2 separate regions of the Homo sapiens genome follow, and region 2 is linked to region 1. The links come from fine-mapping of genetic effects on plasma protein levels. A gene starts in region 1. The other region holds a variant in brackets. All regions are shown on one strand. Distances are between the middles of the regions. Region 1 holds the start of ANGPT2 (angiopoietin 2). Region 2 overlaps MCPH1 (microcephalin 1).

What was found. PIP is the chance, under the fine-mapping model, that this variant and not a neighbour inherited with it causes the effect. The UK Biobank Pharma Proteomics Project read protein levels with antibody pairs (Olink). The fine-mapping took linkage between variants from a reference panel, not from the people measured, so its PIPs are less certain.
Region 2: its variant is fine-mapped to the plasma level of the ANGPT2 protein (UK Biobank, PIP above 0.99).

What each region holds. Positions count from the first base shown.
Region 1 is chr8:6,559,569-6,567,568 of GRCh38, forward strand. It overlaps ANGPT2 (angiopoietin 2), which reads right to left and starts at 3,677. Exons shown (of 9, transcript NM_001118887.2): 1 at 3,079-3,677. The coding sequence starts at 3,366. All of the region lies in intron 12 of MCPH1 (microcephalin 1), which reads left to right. RefSeq lists a silencer at 1,340-1,634 and enhancers at 2,494-3,019, 3,020-3,546.
Region 2 is chr8:6,417,455-6,425,454 of GRCh38, forward strand. All of the region lies in intron 3 of MCPH1 (microcephalin 1), which reads left to right. Among named protein-coding and RNA genes, the nearest start is that of MCPH1, 15 kb to the left of the region's middle. RefSeq lists an enhancer at 657-706. The variant C/T (reference allele first, on the strand shown) is at 4,536.

The DNA.
Region 1 (8,000 bases):
TTTCAAATCATTCTGTTTTAACGTGTTCATAGACTGCAGTTGTTTATAGGTATGAGGCACTCATCAGTGTGAAATAGTTCTTTCCTTTCCATATTTCCTCTTATCAGAAAAAAAAATTCCTGTGGTCTCCTAGCAAAATACAATCCATTTTGCTAAATTATTTGTGAGTTTTTATAAAGTGTGTTTAATATCACCAGGGCAGAGGTTCACACTAGTTGCAGGATTAGCAAGAGAGACGTAGCATGAGTAGTGTTTGGTCCACTGCAGTGTGTTTTGTGTGCTAGCGATCATGAGTTTATCTGATCCTTGTTTAACTACTACACAGTGAGTAAGCTGTCCTGTATTGTTCCATTCATATTCCTCTGAGTTCATTCAGAAGCCTGACACTTCCTTTGCCGGACAGATTAAAGGGGCAGCGTGGGACCTTTTGATGATGTGAAACCTGCTTTCTTAGTCTAAGCTCCCTAGGCTATGCTGACCACTCAGAGGTTGAACTACTATTTATTTGCCCTAAAATGAACCAGAAACTTGGTCTTAGTTTCCTTCCTGACACATGTTTTAATTTCCTAAAAGTGTACGGATTTTGTAGTGGGTTGTTTTTGAATCTTTCATTTTTAGTGCTGATCCAGGAGAGAAAGGAGATATGGAAACATTTTTTTCAAAAAATAGCTCAAAAGAAAATATGTAAAACCATGAAAAACCCAGAATTGTGCTGCTGCTTTCTGTGCTAATTAAATCAGTGGGTGTTAGGTTGTAATGATAACCCTTTAACTGTGTGGCTTATCTCTCATTCCATTTTATATTATTTTCTTCCTCATGAGAAAATCAGTGTTTATTATCACAGGTGACAAAACACAGGAGAAAAACAAACAGTGAGGTTACATTTAATCACTTTAAGTGGGTTTCATCTTTGCTTTTTTGTTTTCATTCCCAAGCCAGAAGCCGTAAACCGAGCGAGAGTGCAAATTGCCTTTCTCAGGTGCACGTTGCTGAGATAGGCTGGGAGAACAGGTGTGGAGCCCGTGAAAAGATAAACATTAAGTCATTCTTGGGGAAACGGTATTTAGCTAGACAGCTGAAGACGGACTTTTGAAATACCATTGTGCTACTGCTGTTCAAATATTGACTAAGTGAACCTGGAAAGGAAGAAATTTTGGTCGCCTAACATAGAACTCGTTGTCTTTTTCTGTCTTTAAATGTTATCTCAAAGACCCAAGAGAAGGGGTAGTTTACCTAAGAAAGAAATATGAGCTTTGCTTATGGAGTTTCAGGTATACCTAATGTAAGTTAATTAAGCAAATACAATGTAGCAGCCTTGCATTTGGCCTAGCATTCTTTTATGTTTCCTGGCTGTTTCTTCGAGGAGATGACCTGCCTGTCGGGCAGATTAGAATATTTACTGCAGTGCATCTTTCATGCCTCGCTGTGACTCTGTAACCACGGTGGATGTGGGAAAGCCATTAACCATCAGCTTGACGGTTTACAAAGAAATAGGAAGTTCAAGTTAAGCAGATATTTAGGATATAGTTTGCCTTCCACATATTTCAACCTGTGTTGCTGCATACTTTTTAAGCTTAGCGTAATTATTCACACAGCTATGAATTTTAGAAGATGTTTAAAAGCAAACCACAGTGACCTGGGAAAGGAGGGAAACTTACTGGAGCGCTTAGCCAGGAGCTTAAAAAGACATTGCTAGTGAGTTTTATGTCACATGAAATCTACATTTGATAGGTCATTTTGGTAAGTTTTTGTTGTTTTAAATGACTCCTCTTGACACAGTAACCAGTGGTGCTGGGAACATTCATTCACATTCATTCATTTAAGCTCATGACTCAAATAATAACTTAGTCGTTTCCTCTCTGAAGGTAGGGGAGGTAATGAGGAGCACCGATTAGGCTCCAAGATCCGTTCTGAGATTCAGATAAGGTGTCCTAACAAAAGGTTTATGGTGAAATGAAAGAGTGAGAAAATAATTGTGCTTTTTCTAGGGTCATGCGTCAAATGAGGCTCACCAACTTTTAAAAGACTTTACATAGCTTTAGATAATCACATTCCCTGCCATGTAAGCATTGTGATGTAATGGCATCATCATGCTACTTAACAATTAATTTATGCATTTTGTTTAAACTTCCTTTAGAATATATATAGTCCATATAAAGAAAATTCCAGGTTCGTTTTGGATTTTGTATAAATAGCTCCCATGTTTACATGTGAAAAAAAATTATTTATGAAAGAAAAACAGAGCTTTCAATATCCTATTTTGGTTACGTCTCCATAAAAACTCTAGGAAACAGTGGGATCATCTGTGAAACAGTGGAATCACCCCAAGAACAAACTGTCAGACAGACCGTCCTGTCGTGGCATGACTTGAACATAACCGTCCCACGTGGGGACGCATTCCGCACCGGTTGCTGGAACTGACGGGGGCTGCAGTGCTGAATACCTCTGGGACGCTTGGGAACTGTGCCCCTGTTTACAGACGGCAAGCCCTTAGTGGTAGGGCCCTGAGATTCTGAGAAACATAAGGTCTGCTTTATTTAATTTCCTCTCGTTTACCAAGAGTCACAACCTATTTTAGTAAATAAATTCAGGAAATTGGTAAAGCACTTTACTCCATCCGTTATGCCTCGGTCATCAGCATGGTTGTCACGGTCTCTCTGGCTCACGGGCTGCTGCGGCTCACAGCCTTCCCTCACTTGCCTGCAACCAGCTGAGAGCCTCCCTGGTGATGGGTGTTACTGAGCTTAAACGATGTAAACAAACAGAACGGCACACAAGTTGTGCAGGGAAGTATATTTCCTCTACCTTGTTAATAAAGATTTCTAACTTTAGAGATTTTCTGTATTGACTCTGGCATTCTTTCCAAATAATTATTTTCACCCCGGGGACTACCCACACACCCTGGGATAGAATAAAAGAAATTATCTTTCATTTGAGGGTACCAGCAACCCGCTCTCCAGCTCTAATCCTCTTCATCCTCCTTCTTTTTTTTTTTTTTTTTTTGGTTGTTAAAACCTGAGCTGCTGCCAAGCTGATCTTAATAGCATGTTCACAAAGACAGATGGATTTTTTTCCTACCTTCATTAGCCACTGAGTGTTGTTTTCCATGATGTTCTCCAGCACTTGCAGCCTCTGCACCGAGTCATCGTATTCGAGCGGCGCGTCCCTCTGCACAGCATTGGACACGTAGGGGCTGGAGGAAGAGCGGCAGTTGTCCATCTCTGGCAGGAGGAAAGTGTAGCTGCAGGACCCATGCTGGACCTGATATTGCTTCTTTCCTATGCTGTCCATGCTCTTCCGAAAGTTGTTATAGGCTGCGGCCAAGACAAGATCACAGCTCAGAGTAAAGAAAACAATCTGCCACATTCTTTCTTCAGTAATAAACCAGCAGCTTAGCAAACTTGAGGGCAAACACACGTCCAGAGTCCCGAGCTGCTGCCGTCTAAAACGCAGGGCTGCTACGCTGCCATGGCTGGGTCCGTCAATGAAAGTCTTCTCTTTCCTCTTTTTCCAGTAGCAAACCTGGTTTTTACTGCTGTGTTCTCTCCAGGCATGCAGTAAACTGTCAGATTGCAGTGGGAAGAACAGTCCTGCTCACTTGGGAGGGCTGTGTCAGCTTTTACAGAGCAGCTTTCACGGTCCTTTGTTCCTCTCTCCCCAGATCCTACAGTGTCAGTATCCGAATCAATCACTTTCCTTTCCTTATATGATAAGTTGATAAGAGCAGCCAGACATGTGTAGTGGGCTGCTCCGCCCTCCTGGCTTAGCCGTTATCTTCCTGTAGGGGGTCACTAGCCAGGCAACAGGAAAAATCAGAGCAGAATGCCTGCCCTCCAACCAGGACCCATGCTGCAGAAACCCTCTGGGAAAAACCGATCTGTTACAGGACCCCTGGGCATTTCCTAGGCACCACCCCAATTAAGTATTTCCTAGAGAGAGCAGTTGATCTCTTTTGTCTGAAACTGATTTTTGCCGTGCTAAGCTGGCAAAATATCTGAGGTAATAACTTTAATGTTGAAGTACAATGAAAGTTCCTGTTTTTTCCTTTAGGAATAAAAATATTACAAATAGGTCAGGACTTCGGTTTATTTTTGTTATTACAAATAAAGAGGAAGAAGTTTGGCTCCTGTAAACGTGTGCCTTTTCAGAGGGAAAAATAGATTCATTGATTTTAGTTGATTCTTGAACCACTAGCCAAGTTACAAAAGATTTTCATTTCCGAACAGTTGGATAGAAAGATCTGTTATTAAGTCACGTTAGAAACATCAGTTTCTGAGCTCTGACCTTTATTCTTTAAAAAAACTCCACTTGGATATTCACTCTAAAAATACACTGTACTGATTAAGTTCATTACATTACAATAGAGAAATTAGAATTTAAGTGCCTGTGTAGAAAGAGGAATACAAACTTTTTTTTTTTTTTTTTTTTTTTGAGACGGAGTCTCGCTCTGTCGACCAGGCTAGAGTGCAGTGGGGCAATGTTGGCTCACTGCAACCTCCGCCTTCCGGGTTCAAGTGATTCTCTTGCCTCAGGCTCCTGAGCAGCTGGGATTACAGGCAAACGCCACCACACCCGGCTAATTTTTGTATTTTTAGTAGAGACAGGGTTTCACCATGTTAGGCTGGTCTCAAACTCATGACCTTGTGATCGACTCGCCTTTGGCCTCCCAAAGTGCTGAGATTACAGGTGTGAGTCACCATGCCTGGCCCACAAACTTCTTTATTGTGTCAGAATTTGTTGACATCTCAGCATTTTGTAACACATTATCAATTACATTAGTCCCCCTTGGTATTAGACTCGGGCAAGTCACTTCCCTGTTTTAATTAAGCTCTAATGTCCTCATCTGTGCAATTCAAGGGGTGCACTCACAAGATTTTTCACCTTCAATCCTATGGCTCTGTAAGTTCTGCAAGTCACTTCCTTTAACAACTAAAACTTAATACTTCAGAGATTAATAATATGTTAACTCAGCAGCCCAAGTGTACATAGGGAAAAAGCCCCCTGCCTTTGCTGCGGTTTATCTCTCAAGGTACAAGGTTTATTATTCCCAGTGAGCGCTGAATAGCTGGTACACTGACTTAACAGACCACATCTACCCATAAAAGATCTTTATTTTTTACTAAGCTCTAACCGAAAGACAGCCTTTCCCTTATCAATGAATAGTTAACGAACAACAGTGTGAATATCTGTGACTTTCTCATCCTCAGAAATCAGCTCTTTTTATTTGCTGCCACAATACTCAGAACTACATTTTTATTAAACCCAGCCCTAGATCTTGCTACTGAACATTGGAATAAAGTAGCATGTGTCTTCTTTTGAGAAGGTGTTTATAGGCTTCACCAGACAACCAAAGGGTTCTGTCACACAGAAAAGCTGGAAGACATGCTCTGGAAGGATCTCATTAGTAGAAGAGGTAGTATGATTCCACCAAGGTTCTGGACATGGTTTCCACTAAGGGAACCAATTAAAGATGCTATACCCATCCGGACAGTGCACCGTCGAAGAAAGCATATAGGTCTTAAAGATGAGACCTGTGTTAGAACCCTGCTTCTGTGTGACCTCCAGCAAATGCTTCCATTCTTGGAGCCTCAGTCTCCCTAGTCATAAGATGGAGATCATTTTTTCTCTGTAGGGTTTTTAGGATTAAGATATAATTGTATGTTTAGAAATATTTGTTCCTTTTCTTTACAGGCATGCTCCATTAAATGGGGATCAGTTCTTCCACCATCAAATAGTATAACTCTGCTATTCTCTGAATGCAAAGCAGTGGCAGTGGCATAGGGTACAATTTTTTTATTTCCTGTTTGAAAAAGCATATTGTAAGGTATTAATATCACATATGTGGTTTTACCTTTTTTCAAGATTATTTTTTGTAGAGACGGGGTCTCACTCTTGTTGCCCAGGCTGGTCTTGAACTCCTGGCATCCAATGATCCTCTTGCTTGGCCTCCCAAAGTGCTGGGATCACAGGTGTGAGCCACTGTACCTGGCCTGCATATATGGTTTTAAAAGTCATTCAGTTGTCTTCCAGGCAAATAGAGTAGTTTAAAAGGAACAAATAGAAAGAGGGCACACCACAGTACTTTTTGTCTACCAGCCTTGTGTCAGACACCATGCTATGCACTGGGGATAGAGATTAAGGCAACTGGGTGTCTGACCTAAAGAAGCTAATAGTGTATGGAGAGGGAGAGACCCATAAACAAATTGGATGTGGTAAGAGAGAGCAGTCGGAGCACAAAGAAAGACAGTGATGCTTCCGGGTGCACAATATGCCATGTGCAGCTGGCATGGACTCCATCCTTTTCAAATTCCCTCAAGTTCCGAACATGGAAGGAACAGCTCTTTGTAGATTCCTAAATGGAAATTATCGGAACCAGAGAGTCAGGGGAAGCTCTAGTAGAGCCGGAGTTGGCAAACTCTGTCCAGTGTCAGATGGTAATTATTTTCGGCTCTGCAGGCTATACGGCCACCATCGCCACCACTCAAAGGTAATGCGGTGCAAAGCAGCTGTGGGACAGCATTAACTGAGTGAGCGTGCTGGGCTCCAATAAAGCTTTATTCGTGATACTGAAATTTGAATTTCTTGTAATTTTCACATCATGAAAGATTCTATTTTCTGCAATCATTTAAAAGTTTAAAAACCATTCTTAGCTCATAGGCTGTTAGAAACCGGGCCTGGACTGTAGCTTGCTGGCCTCTGAGAGCCTAGGTGGTCTGTGGGGGTAGGAGGTGCTGGGCAAGGCCGTCCACAGTGCACGCGGTGTGGTGACCGTGTGTGGTTGGCAAGGCTGTCAGCAGTACACACAGTGCAGCAACCACCGTGTGTGGTCAGCAAGGCCATCCACAGTCCACACAGTGCAATAACCGTGTGTGGCGAGCAAGGCTATTGACACTGTACGCCGTGCAGCGACCGTGTGTGGTCAGCAAGGCCATGGAGAGTGCACACAGTACAGTGACCACCTGTGGTCGGCATGGCCATTAACAGGGCACACAGCACGGTGACCATGTGTGATCAGCAAGGCCGTGGATAGTGCCCGTGGTGTGGTATCCATGTGTGATCGGCAAGGCCATGGATAGTGCATGTGGTGCGGTGACCCTGTGTGATTGGCAAGGCCATGGATAGTGAACGTGGTGCGGTGACCGTGTGTGATCGGCAAGGCCATGGATAGTGCACGTGTTGCGGTGACCATGTGTGATTGGCATGACCATCGACAGTGCTTATGGTGTGGTGACCGTGTGTGATCCGCAAGGCCATGGATAGTGAGTGCACACGGTGCGGTGACCATGTGTGATCAGCAAGGCCATGGATAGTACACGCGGTGCGGTGACCATGTGTGATCGGCAAGGCCATGGATAGTGCACGCGGTGCGGTGACCGTGTGTGATCGGCAAGGCCATGGATAGTACACGCGGTGCGGTGACGGTGTGTGATCGGCAAGGCCATAGATAGTGCACGCGGTGCGGTGACCATGTGTGATCGGCAAGGCCATGGATAGTGCACGCGGTGTGGTGACCGTGTGTGATCGGCAAGGCCATGGATAGTGCACGCGGTGCGGTGACCGTGTGTGATCGGCAAGGCCATGGATAGTGCCCGTGGCGTGGTGTCCATGTATGATCAGCAAGGCCATGGATAGTGCACGTGGTGCGGTGACCGTGTGTGATCGGTAAGGCCATGATAGAGCATGCAGTGCGGTGACCGTGTGTGATCCGCAAGGTCATGGATAGTGTACACGGTGCGATGACCATGTGTGATCCGCAAGGTCATGGATAGTGCACACGGTGCGGTGACCATGTTTGATCGGCAAGGCCATGGATAGTGCACACGGTGCAGTGACCACCGTGTGAACAGGGGAGGACTGGTGCCTCGGCTCAGCCTTCTGTGTGGCTGCTTACAGGGGCTTACTAACGGGATAGAATAGGTGCTTAGAGAAAGTGCCACACTGAAGTGAATTAAGGATGCCAGGTGGGGAGAGGGGCCAGGAAGTGGCCTGGGATGCAAGTG
Region 2 (8,000 bases), 140 kb before region 1:
TAATACACCTTTTAAACGTTTGCATTTGTCCATAGTGCTCTCCTTCTTCTTCATTATTGTTCAGTCTTTTTTTTTCTCCTCAGATTGATCTTTTTTCAAGTTCATTGACTTTTTTCTCCATCAAATCCATTCTGCTACTTAGTACCTTTATTTGAGATATTTTTGATTTCTAACATTTCTAGTTGGTTTTTGTATACATTCTTTTTATTTCGGTTTCATGTGAGATTTCTCACCTTTGGTTTTCCTGTCTTCGGTTATGAGTGTATTTTCTATTACCTCGATGAGTGTAGTTATAAATAGTTGTCTTAATGACCTTGTCTGATAATTTTGAGGTTGGTATCTGTTTTGTTTTTGTTTTTCTTTGATAGTGTGTCACATTTTTCTGGCTCTTCATATGGCAAATAATTTGAGGTTGTATTTTGCACGTTGTAAATACTATGTAGACTCTGGATTCTTTTCTATTGTCGCAAAGAGCATGAGGTTTTTGTTTTAGCAAGCAGTTAACTTGTCGTTAAAATGAAACGCACACTGTCATTATGTGGGCAGTTGCTTAGATGCGCCCTTTAAGCCTCAGGTGCAGGCTGATTTGTTTGCCTCAAACACATGTTGTTCAGGGGTCAGCCAGAGACTTGAACTTCTATACTCAGAATTTGGGGTTTCTCCTATGGTTCTCTTACTTCCTGAGTCCTTACCTCATTTCTCTAGTAGCCCTAGCTGCCCAGTCTCCTTCCCCTGGTCTCTTCAGCGAGAAAGGAGGCCGGAGCTTCTGCTTGAGTGCTTGCTGCGCCACACCAGCTCCCTCAGAGACTGTGGCTGCCTTTAGGGGACAGACAGAAAAAGTGGTGATGCCCAGATTCTTTTGCTTCCTTTTAAAATTTGCCTGTTCTTTCTTTTTCTTTTATTTCCCTCCAGCTTTCAAAGCTCTCACATAGTTGGTTTATTTTATTTTATTTTTCCTGTATTTCCAGGACGTATAGCTTATAGTTCACCTATATTTGTATATTGGTTTGTTAGGCATAAACAGAAATGGAACTTAGTATGTTATTTTTGAAGCATCTGATGCCAGTCTAATTCTTCTTCCCTTCAACATTATTTGATCTTTTTGGAGACTCCTTAGGGATATTTTTTATTTTATCATTTTTTTTTTGAGACGGAGTCTCGCTCTGTCGCCAGGCTGGAGTGCAGTGGCGCGATCTGTGCTCACTGCAACCTCCTACTCCCTGGTTCAGCGATTCTCCTGCCTCAGCCTCCCGAGTAGCTGGGATCACAGGCACGTGCCACCACGCCCAGCTAATTTTTGTATTTTTAGTGGACACGGGGTTTCACCATGTTGGCCAGGATGATCCTGATCTTCTGACCTCGTGATCTGCCTGCCTCAGCCTCCCAAAGTACTGGGATTGTAGGCGTGAGCCACAGCGCCCGGCCAGGATTTTTTTTTTAAGACTCATGGCTTTACTGTAATATGTTTTGAATTGATCATTCCAGTTCTGGCTTGGCCTTTTCAACAGATTCAGGTCTATATTTCTGCAAAAGTTTCTGGGATTATAGTTTTAAATATTCTGCTTCGTTGTTTTGCTTTTCTTCTGGGACTCCAATTATGTTTACGTTGGGCCTGCTTAGCTATCTTTTATTTCAGTCAACTTGACTTCAACCCTTTTATATTTATATACACATACACACACACACACACACACACAGACACACACACACACACACACACACACACACACACACGCATTTTTACCCCAAATACTTATTTGACAGTATTTGTTTTTGTTTTTTGAAGACAGGGTCTTGCTCTGTTGCCGAGGCTGGAATGCAATGACTCAGTTGCAGCTTACTGCAGCCTTGACCTCTAAGGCTCAATCAGTCCTCTCACCCCAGCCCTCCCTAGTGGCTGGGACTGTAGGCATGTGCCACCATGCCCAGCCATTAAAAAATTTTTTTTTTCTTTTTTCTTTTTGAGATGGAGTCTTGCTCTGTGGCCTAGTGCAGTGGCGCAATCTCGGCTCACTGTAAGCTCTGCCTCCCAGGTTCATGCCATTCTCCTGCCTCAGCCTCCCGAGTAGCTGGGACTACAGGCGCCCACCACCACACCTGGCTAATTTTTTTTTTTTTTTTGTATTTTTAGTAGAGATGGGATTTTACCGTGTTAGCCAGGATGGTCTTGATCTCCTGACCTTGTGATCCACCTGCCTTGGCCTCCCAAAGTGCAACCCGGCATTAAAGAATTTTTTTTATAGAGATGGGATCTTACTATGTAGGCCAGGCTGGGCTCAAGTGATCCACTCACTCCAGCCTCTCAAAGTGCTGGGATTACTGGTGTGAGCCACTGCACCCAGCTGATAATATTTGATTCAAGTTCAAGGGTTTTGTTATATTCTTCAGTTTTGTGTTTGCTTTTATTTTAGGGAGTGTGATGGGTTTTCCTCAGCTGAAATGATTTGCTTTTTCTTTGTTTTTTTAAAATAGATTTTTAAAATGGATGTAGTCTATTCTATTTCCATTCATTGCATAGGCCAGGCTTGTGGCCAGAGCGTCCTCTTCTGTCAGTTCTGCTGTCTTGCATAGTTTCTTTTATAGGTGATGCTGGTGAGGGAGGGAGGAGGGAGGGGCTCGTGTATCTCGTTTGCGTTTTGTTTCTATAGGATCCTTAAATGTTTTTCTCTTAGTTTCTTCTTTTTTTCACTGCCATTGGTTCAAGGGCTGCCACTCCCCCCAGAACTGATGTTTTTCAGAGCCTGCCTGTCCTAGTCTTGCTCCCATTCAGACCCCTTCCCTGGAGTGGGTGCTGTGAGCTGTGTGGGTTCTCTGTTGTGGCAGTTGTGCTGGGTGTCCTCTTTCTGAGACTTCTTTTACCTGTGCTTCATGTAAGTTCTCCAGGCTGTACTACTTTTTATGGAGTCTTAAGCGTATTCTCCCCGACTTTCTGCATCCATAGACTTGCAGCTGTGTTGGAATTTGATTATTTTTCTACTTATAGGTCATCTGAATTTGCGCTGTTATCTCCGTGTCAGTGAGAATGTAGGTCATATGTGTCTTTTATTTAAGTTTCTTTTTTATTTTCTGCTTTTTTTTCGGGGAGGGAATGGGGTAAGACTCAGTATCAGCCAGCCATCATTGTTTTCTCTACCTCATCTTCTTATGGAGTCCATTGAAATGGCTTATTGATTTTTATCTCAAAATCGATCTCTCATAGATCTTTATCTCTGCTGTTACAGTCGAGACAAGTATCATGTCTTGCTTCAGTTACTGTAGCAGCCTCATGCCTGTCTGTTTCATTTTGTTTCTTATACATAAGCAAATGTAACCCCTTTTGTTACCAGTGGAAGGTATCCAAGTTACCGGCAGCAAACACGTATGGGTTTGCAGCAACTTCAGTTCTTGCTTCCTCAAAAGAAAGAATTCCACGGAGGAGCATAAGGCAAAAGAAGAGACTGACGCAAGGGTCAGAGCAGGAGCAGAAGTTTATTTAAAAGGCGTCAGAACAGAAAGAAAGGAAAGTACACTGGGAAGAGTCCCAGGCGGGCATGGAGGTCTAATTTGATGTTTAACCTTGATCCTGGGATTTGTAGGCTCGCCCTTTTCCGCAGTTCTTCCCTTAGGGTGGGCTGCCCGCATGCACAGTGCGGGAATTGAGCACAGGCAGCTTGTTTAGGAAGTTGTGTGGGTGCCCATCTGAAGCTTTCTTCCCGTTTCTCCGCCATTTTGTCTCTTAATGTGCATGCCCGGGAAATGGCCTCTCCCTGGCGTCTGCATTCAGTTAACACTTTAGCACAACAGGTGTGGACTGTCAGGAAATGGCCTCTCCCTGGCTCTGGCTGCCAATTTATCACTTTTAGAGAGGCAATGTGATAATTGTTGAGCTATCACCCAACATTCCTAGTGGGTGGTAGAGGCCTCTCCTGCCGGGCTTATGCCTAACTACCTGTAATACTTCAACACATGGATCAGCTTTATCCTTCTGACAAAATGGCTTAGAGTTCAGTGGTCTATAGCAGAGAATGGCCAACTATCATCCCCCAGCCAAATCCACCCTGCCATACTGTTTATTTTTTTTTAATGGCCCATGAGGTAAGAATGGTTAAGAGAAAAAAAAAATTCAAATGTTTACTATTTCATGATATTTACATTATATGAAATTCAATTTTAGTATCCATAAATACCGTTTTATTGGAACACAGGCATGTTCATCTGACGATGTAGTCAGTGGCTGCCTCTGTACTACAGCTGTAGATTTGGATCCTGTGGCAGAGACCTTACGGCCCACGAAGCCTAAGGCATTCACTACTTTCCCCTTTACAGAAGTTTGCTGACCCAGGTCCAGTGTGCTGCATGATGGTCCCCTTCCCTTCCATTGTCAGCTGCTCCCCTCTCCCTTGTTTGCGTCTTCCAAATGCTCTGGGCTTCCACGTCCCCAAGGCTACACTCTTTCTGCCTTTAGTTCTTGGCCTGTGCTGAGAACTCTGCCCCGTCTTCCTGATTCTAAACCCAGTTTTGTAGTCAGCTCCTTTATACATGTTGCATTGCAAGGT[C/T]GCTTTATCAGAAGAGCTTCCTCTGTCCCCAGTTCACAGTTCAAGCCCTATTTGTTATTCTCTGTCTCAGCTCCTTTTTTCCTGTGTGTACTATTAAAACTTATTTTGTTCATTTGACTGCTTTATCTGTCTGTGTATCTAATCATGCATTTTGTCTTTCTATTGTAATGTGGATTCCAAGAGCAGCTACCTGTCTGTCTTATTTATGGTTGTGTTTCTAGTAAGTCTAACATTCATCTGGCTCATAGTAGATGCTCAGTAAATATTTGTTCTAACAAATTATGAACAAAGGAAAATTTAGTTAAGTGGCGTAGAGATACTAGAGAAAATATCATGGGGGAAAATGATTTGAAAAAAAACTACATTTTAAAAGTCGTATAGAAATGTGGAGGGGAGAGTGCAGAAACAGAGACCTTTACTAGAAGCTTGAAGTAAATGGAGATGCATGGACAAAATTAAAATAGTAGCCATTTCTGTACCTAATAGGGCCTCTCAGCTAACCCTACAATGGGGATGGTCACTGGTAGTGTGTTCTGCTGAGAGTTAGGGATTCTTACTCTGCTTTGCTGGCCCAGCCCCTGACTCATTCTCTATCCCCTTTCTCTCTCTCTCTATTTCTGCCCACCACTAACCCCAGCCTTTCTCAAGGGGCTCATGCAGACCCCATAATACTTGTAACTTCGTTATCCAAAAGCAAAGTTTTCTTTTTCTTTTCTGGAGACTGAGTCTCACTCTCTTGCCCAAGCTGGAGTGCAGTGGTGCGATCTCGGCTTACTGCAACCTCCGCCTCCTGGGTTCATGCCATTCTCCTGCCTCAGCCTCCCGAGTAGCTGGGACTACCGGAGCCCGCCACCACGCCCGGCTAATTTTTTGTGGTTTTAGTAGAGACGGGGTTTCACTGTGTTAGCCAGGATGGTCTCGATCTCCTGACCTTGTGATCCGCCCTCCTCGGTCTCCCAAAGTGCTAGGATTACAGGCGTGAGCCACTGTGCCCGGCCAATTTTTATATTTTTAGGAGAGACAGGGTTTCACCATGTTGGCCAGGCTGGTTTAACTCCTGACCTCAGGTGATCCGCCCACCTTGGCCTCCCAAAGTGCTAGGATTACAGGTAAGAGCCACCGTGCCTGGCAAAAGCACACTTTTAAGGTCCTCAGAAGCTCAAAAGTGAACTTAATCTTTTGGCATTTTTCTTTTCTTTTCTTTTTTTTTTTTTTTTTGAAACTGAGTCTCGCTCTGTCGCCCAGGCTGGAGTGCAGTGGTGCAATCTTGGCTCACTGCATTCTCCTGCCTCAGCCTCCTGAGTAGCTGGGACTACAGGCGCCCGCCACCACGCCTGGCTAATTTTTTTGTATTTTTAGTAGAGACGGGGTTTCACCGTGTTAGCCAGGATGGTCTCCATCTCCTGATCTTGTGATCCGCCCGCCTCGGCCTCCCAAAGTGCTGGGATTACTGGCATGAGCCCCTGCGCCCGGCCCATACACTTTAGTCAACTTTTTATTACAGGTCATTTTTTTGCCTGTACATGCAGATGCATCCCACTTTATATATATAAGAATATTTTGTAGTAGCTGTCCAGTAATTTATGTAAGCAGTGTCCTATTGGTGATTGAAGTTTTTCATTTCTTAGTTATTTTTTTCAATTAGAAATATTACAGCATTGAGCTTCTGTATGTATTACCTTTTTGCGGGTGATAAATCTTTCCATAGGTTTAAATCCCCAAAGTGGGCTGTTCATTTCTGAGAGTTTACATATTTAAATATGATAGATGCTGCCAAATTATCTTCTGGAAGGAGTGTACTGGTTTCCATTCTCACTGGAATTATCAAAAAAATGCATGTTTCCCAATACCTTTGCTAATGTTGTGAGTTATCAGTTCTTCTTTCTAATTTGTAGAAGAAAAATAATAGTTTTTATTTGCATTTCTCTGACTTTTAGTGAGCTTGAATTTTCTTCAGCAGAGCATAGAGATAAGAGCCAAACTGACCTGCATTTTTTATGTCACGTCTGTCCTTTCTTGGTGAACTGCCTGCCTTTCCAATGCAGTAGCTCATGGTTTCCACTGAAAATGTGAACATTAACTTCATAAGGTCACTAGGTGTCACTAGAATCCCATTCTGTTGGGTTCCTTCTGGGAGTGTTCATTTTAAGATCAGATGGCAATTGATAAAATTCTGACATTTCCTTTGGATGTAGAAATTTTTACCTTGAAGAAAGAATACATAAAGTTGAAATAAAGGTCAGCTTGGCCCCCACTCTAAGTTCTGTTGAAGACAATTTATCATTTTTAAACAACTGCAAACTAACAGCTAGGTGGGGAATACGGTTCACAGGCTTTGTCCTTGCTAGGCTGAGAGTTGGTTGCTGACCGAAGGCCATCACCCCCTGCATTTAGTGTTTGCTGGAAACAGGGACATATTCCTGCATAACCACAACACAGGCCGACATTAGGGGCTTACCACGGCTCCTTTCCTCCCGGAATCCTCAGACTCCATTCCTATCCTACCAGCAGCCAGCTCCACTTCCCGCCTCCTCAGCCTTCTCACCCTGCAGCCATTCCTTAGTCTTTCACTGGCTTTTGTGACTTTGACACTGTTTAAGGTCACTGACCAGTGATAGGAACGTCCCTCAGTTTGGAACGGTCTGATGTGTCCTCCTAATATCACATCAATGTGTAACAGTGGATGTGTAGCCATTTAGGACTGGGCAAATTACTCAACTGCTGGGCTCTAGGTTCCTCCAGTAGCTCCTGAGTTAACTTCCTACGGTTATTTAGTGCTAGACCACAGAAGTTCGCTCTCTGCTGGCAGAGCACTGTTGTGCAGACTTCTCTGAGTCTCCTGTGTTCTTCCTTGTGTGTCAGGGACACACGTGAAGGATAGCGTGCTTCGCGGCTGGAATCTTCAAGGAGATGCCATTCACTTTTTTACCTCACTAACACAGTGCCGTTTACAAAAAAGATTAATGTACTTTTCCTGAATTGACTTACTGACTGGGCCTAGAGAATAAGATACTGGTGCTGGGCAGTTTGGCACAAGAGTAGCATAAAGAATGCAGGATTGGCCCAGGTGAAGGCATCGTCCTAAGGGTAGAATGAGAGTCGGTGGTTCCTGGCCGACCTAGCAGGTGTACTGTGGGAAGTGCTGGAGTGAATCGGCTCTCTGGGGAGAATAAGCTCATCACAGCACGGCTTCCCGAGGAGAACGTTGCTGCTTTGATTTCTGTTGGCTCTGAGGCAGCAGCAGGTCAAATAGTTGGTTCTCTGTTTAGAGACATCTCTTGAAACACTTTTCGTTTTGACCACTAGATGGTGGGATAATGTTATCATTTTACATTTCTGAAGAAAAATAGAAATCTAACTGGAAGCTTTTTTGTCTGTTCAGTAGATTTTGGTTGGACCCCTGGTAAACATGGGTTTCAGTGTAGCAGCTTTAATGTGTTACCACGTGTGCTAAAGCATAGCTGT